2 separate regions of the Homo sapiens genome follow, and region 2 is linked to region 1. The links come from fine-mapping of genetic effects on gene expression. A gene starts in region 1. The other region holds a variant in brackets. All regions are shown on one strand. Distances are from middle to middle.

What was found.
Region 2: its variant is fine-mapped to the expression of GAS1 in whole blood (INTERVAL, PIP above 0.99).

Annotation. Positions count from the first base shown.
Region 1 is chr9:86,946,067-86,948,873 of GRCh38, forward strand. It overlaps GAS1 (growth arrest specific 1), which reads right to left and starts at 1,440. Exons shown (of 1, transcript NM_002048.3): 1 at 1-1,440. The coding sequence starts at 713. GAS1RR (GAS1 adjacent regulatory RNA) reads left to right here and starts at 2,632. Exons shown (of 7, transcript NR_049794.1): 1 at 2,632-2,807. RefSeq lists silencers at 431-500, 571-650.
Region 2 is chr9:87,271,806-87,274,612 of GRCh38, forward strand. All of the region lies in intron 7 of LOC105376126 (a long non-coding RNA gene), which reads right to left. Among named protein-coding and RNA genes, the nearest start is that of LINC02872, 120 kb to the left of the region's middle. The variant A/C (reference allele first, on the strand shown) is at 1,294.

The DNA of each region.
Region 1 (2,807 bases):
TTCTCCTTGACCGACTCGCAGATGGGCCGCTCGAGGCCGTCGCACACGCAGTCGTTGAGCAGCGCCGCCTTGGGCATAGCCAGCATGTCCTCAATGACGGTGCGGCATTCGTCCGTGCAGCGCAGCCCGTTGAAGACTTTGCCGCAGTAGGTCAGGTAGCGGCTCAGCGCCAGGTTGCAGCGGCTGTCGCGGTCGCAGCGCCGCCGGGCCTCGGTGCAGCCCATGACCCCGCCCGCGCCGGGGCCGCCCGCGCCGCCGCCGCTCGTCCGGGGCAGGCACGGCTCAATGGCGCGCTTGGTGGACTTGCAGTTCTCGTCCTGCGCGCAGTCACAGTCCTCCAGGGCGGGCCCGCGGCGCGTGTGGTTGAGCTGAATGAGGGCCGAGATGCAGTGACTCGGGCAGCGCCAGCGCGACGAGAAAGAGGCGGCCGAGGCCGGGAAAGCGGCGGCGGCGGCCCCGGGCGCGTCGCCCCCGCCGTGCTGCGCCAGCACCGGCGCGCACGCCTCGGCGTACTGGTTGTAGGCGTAGCTGCACTCCGGCTCCCCCTGGCACTGCAGCAGCGCCTGCCAGCAGATGAGGCGGCGGCCGTGCGCCAGCCCCGATCCCCGCGGCGCCGAGCCCAGCAGCTGCAGCAGCGCCATCAGGCACAGCCAGGCGCCCGGCACTGTCCCCCCGCGGGCCTCGCCGCCGCCGCCCAGCAGCGCGGCCACCATCGCGGGCAGCGGCGGCCGCCGGGAGAGGAGGGGAAAGGAGACGAGGCGCGGGGAGCGGCGGACGCGGAGCCGGTGGAAAAGTTTGTCCAAGTCCTGCCCACTTCTTGCATGAGTGTCTTCATAAATCCATGCGCGCCGCTGGCTGATGCCCCGCTGGTGGCAGAAGGTCCCCTTTCGCTCTGGCTGCGGTGGCTTCCTGGAAATGAACAGCTGTCGAGATCTGGTCCCGCTCTCCCACCCGAGAGCCCTCCGCTCGGCCCCCGGTGGTGGCGGGAGAGGCTCACTGTCGCCCCGGGGGGGTGCGGGCCGCGGGGCCGTGGCGGGGCTGCAGGACCGCGCGGCGCGGCGGGTGCATTTTGCTCCGCGCCTGCAGATCCGTTGTGCGGCCGGCTGTCCCCGTGCCGGCTGCTCGCGCTGCGGCCGCGGCGGCTCCTTCCTCCTGGGCTCAGTGCCTCGCCGCCGCCACCGCCGCCGCGGTCTCTCGCATCGCGCCGCTTCCTGGCCCGGCGTCCGCGCGCTGCCCGCCTTCCCGCGGCCCGGCCGCCCCGCGTCCCCTCCCCCTCCGCCCGCGGCAACCCCGGCCTCCGCAGAGCTCCGGGGAGCTCTTTCCGGGAAGCGCGGGGAGAACAAGAAAGTCGGCGCTGCCGGAGAGCGGCTCCCTGGCTTCACTCGGCGGCAGCTTCTCGGGTGACCAAGAGCCCGGGGAGCGGATCCGCTGAGCCCGGCTGCAGACTCGTTAGCAGCGAGGCTTTAAATACAAAAGTGGGCCGGGAGCCCCCGCGTGGTGCCGCGGTGCCCCCTCATTATGCATGCATGGAAAAGCAAACAAACAAAAACATTAGCAACGCTCCTCCGGCTCGCCGAGCCCCGGCCCCGCGCGCTCCGAGCCTGCCCGCTTTCTCCTTTCTCCACTCTCTTTCGCCCTTTGCTCGGCCCCCTTTCCCGGCTTTTCGAGATGCTATTGGTCCTGCCTGTTGTTGTTGAAAGTTTTTTTTTTTTTTTTTACGAGCCGCTGGAGTGGGGTTGCGGAGTGGGGGAGGGCGGGAGGGTGGTGGGCAGCTCACATTCAGGCATTCAGGGCTTGAAAGGAACGGCTTAGGGAGCCTGACGGAGGCCCGGAGCTCCTCCTACTCTTAAGGAGGCTCGGATATGCAGCCCCAGCTCGCGCACAGAACCAGCGGGCAGGGCTTAGGGGCAGCTGTTTGCATCCGGCTCAGCCACGGGCCTTTTTTGTTTGTTTTTTTTTTCTTTTTTTTTTTTTTTGTAGTTTTATTAATTCTCGCTGGCCCCCATCTGTGCTTTCGACTGGATTCAGAACTCAGTTTATCTTCCAGGCTCCCTGTCTTTGGGTCTTGATCACCACAGAGGGGAAGGGGAGAATCCAGAGATAAAATGTGAGACTGAAACTGTTTTAAAGAAGCATACAAGAAAGAAGCACACACTTTATTAGGGAGATGTTGATGAGATGCTTACAACCCGCCCGCCACCCCCCAGCCCCAGCTAGGCCATCTGGCAGGTACCGCCCGTGCGCCAGGCATCGTTTTCAAATTGCAAGACCGAAATCCAATCAACCGAAATAATTTCTTAGGAAGATAAGCTTGCAACACGTGCAATAATGAAAAAATTTAACTAGCATTAAAAATATTCAGGAATGTCGAGCAATTACCACCTGGCCGCAGTCACAGGACAGAAGACGGAATAAATGGGCACGCACCAAAGGTTTATATTAAAGTGTAAGTTTCAGCCCCTCAGTATATTTAAGGGAGGCTGCTCTGCAGAGGAAACCTCTGCCTTCTCGGCGAGGGAGTTTCCGAGCTACCTTAACTGGGGCGCAACGCAGCCTTCCGCCACCAGAGGCAGCGGGCGTCTGCGGCCTGTCAAAAACTGGCGCTTTTTTCCTCCCCTTTCCGTGGAGAGACTATCAACTCCATCTGTCACAAAAATTAAGGCTAAATCTCCTCTCCAGAAGCAGAGGGAGCCGGGGCTCCGACGCGCTCAGCGTCGGGCTGTCTGCCTCTCCCTAGAGGCCAAGTGAATTTGAAATGGCAAAAGTCACAGCCGGAGGCCCAGCACTAGGAGATTCCTCCGGCTGCG
Region 2 (2,807 bases), 330 kb after region 1:
ACCAGGGTTGTAGATTTTTTTAGCTAGACAGAGCTTTGCTGGAAGGATGAGCCCAGACCACGCCTCTTACCCTACCGGGGTGGGGGAAATTAAGGTCCACAGCCTGATGGTCATTGCTAAGGTCATCAGCTGGTATGTAGCAGAAACAAGATCTCTCAGGATACAACTTACTGAGAAGTATTGTATGAACTGTAAAGCAATACTTTGACATTAAGGTATTTACATTATTCTTTACTTGTAAATTTATGATCATTTTATCTCAGCAGGAATCCAGAACAAACTAGCCTTCATCTAAAGAATTATGATTTATCTAGAACTCTTGAGTTATATTAAACTGAAGCACTACCCCCATCCAAGTTCCTAATCAATTCAAATTGCTTAAATGTTTACATATTTTCAATTCCTTTTTTATAAACTCAGCTTAACCACTTCCTAAGACATTGCCACTTTTTGTCACATGTAGTTCTTTGAAACCAAAGAAGTAGCAACTAAAGATAAAATCGTCAATGGACAAAAATCACCGATACCCACAGTCAGCAAGGTCTCAATGCAAATTTGTTGGCTGCTTAAAAGGACCAGAAGCACTAGACAAAAGCATACACTCCCAATATGAGTTTTCAAGGTTTTGTTATCTGATATTTTATATGGTCAGCCAGATCAACAGTGGTCCTTGTTCACATAGAGTATCTCAGATGACAGATGGATATAAATTCATCCCCATTCATGCTAAGATCTAAATTCTATACATGCAGATAAAAGAAAGATATCTTGGAAGAAATTTTAACCTGATGTGAAATATAGCACTTATTAACCATCATTCTAATCATCTCTAGTAGATATTTAGACAGCATTTAGCAATTTGCAATAGGAGTTCAGAAATTATCTTGTTTGAACTCAAATGCAAATCAGTGGGAGCAAAATGATGAGAACTTATGAATGCAAAGAAGGAAACAACAGACCCTGTAATTAGTCAATTAGTTGACTAATTACGGAAGTTTTCATCGCTAGGAAGTACCTAAGTCATCGGAGATTATTTTCATTTCTAATCAACCTTCAAGTGACACTGAAGTTCCTAATACATTGTTTATTTATTTATTTTAAACTGAGACAGAGTCTCGCTCTGTTTCCAGGGCTGGAGTGCAATGTCCAATGACCCTCCTTGAAGGTGGAGGGTGGGAGGAGGGAGAGGAGCAGGAAAGATAACTATTGGGTACTGGGCTTAATTCTTCGGTGATGAAATAATCTGTATATCAGACCCTCATTATATGAGTTTACCTATGTAACAAACCTTTC[A/C]ATGTACCCCAAAACCTAAAATAAAAGTTAAAAACAAACAAAAAAGAAATGGTACAACCATTGTGGAAAACAGTACGGTGGTTTCTCATACGGTTAAAAATTGAGTTGCCATATGATATGGAAGTGCTACTTCTGGGTATATCCCCAAAAGAATAGAAAGCAGGGCCTCAAAGAGATATCTGTACACCCACGTTCATGGCAGCATTCTTCGCAATAGCCGAAACATGGAAGCAATCCAAGCGTGCACTGACAGATGAATAGATAAGCAAAATGCAGTGTAGATATACCACAATGGAATATTGTATTAACCAGTCTTAAAAGGAAGGAAATTCTGACACAGCTTATAGCATAGATGAACCTAAATGAAAAGAACCAGTCACAGAAAGCAAATCCAGTATGCTTCCATTTATACCTGGTACCTAGAAGAGTTAAAATCAGAGAGGCAGAAAGGAGAATGGCGGTCGCTAGGGGCTTGAAGCAGGGACAAATGGGGAGTTACTATTTCATGAGTGTGGAGTTTCTGTTTTACACGATGAAAAGTGTCCTGAAGATGGATGGAGGTAATGGATGCACAACTTGATGAATGTGTTTAATACCACTGGATTCTACACTTAAAAATGGTTAGGAGGGCCAATTTTATGTTATATGTATTCTTCCACAATAAAAAAAATAACAAATTAAAGAAAAAGCAGAGAGGCAGAGTTGACTAACTACAGGAGTTTTCATAGCTGGGAAGTACCTAAGTCATCAGAAATGATTTTCATTTCTAATCAACCTTCAAGTGACACTGAAGTTCCTAATACTTTATTTATTTATTTGTTTGTTTGTTTGTTTGTTTTTTAATTGAGATGGAGTCTCGCTCTGTCACCCAGGCTGGAGTGCAACGCCCACTGCCCGGGTTCAAGCAATTCTCTTGCCTAAGCATCCCTAGTAGCTGGGACCACAGGCATGCGCCACCACGCCCGGCTAATTTTTTTGTATTTTTAGTAGAGATGGGGTTTTGCCAGGCTGGTCTCAAACTCCTGACCTCAGGTGATCCACCCCCCTCGGCCTCCCAATGTGCTGGGATGAGCCACTGCTCCTGGCCTGAAGTTCCTAATACTTTAAATTACTCTTCCCCTACTGATGATCTGTAAATAAGGTATTTTAAAAGAACAAAGTTCACTGTGTGAAAAAAAAATTGAGGAAATAAGCTGACTTTCCCAAGTTTACCCAGCTACAATGGTGGGGAGTGGAATCTGAAGTCAAGCGTGTGTGTAGTACACAAATGTGCCTTTTATTTTCCAATTTTCTATTATCAGCACTGCTTTGGGAAGAAGATAGAGGAAAGAGAAGAAAAGACCCTCAGACCAATGTATACTTCTTTCACAAAACACACACCCAATGCAAATTACACAGTATAGTTAGCTGAGGGGCATAATTTGTCACACAAATAAACAAACACTATTTGGTTCCGTCTGTGGCTACTGCAGTTATAATGAAAATCTAAAAACAACTGTAATGCTTCTAACCAT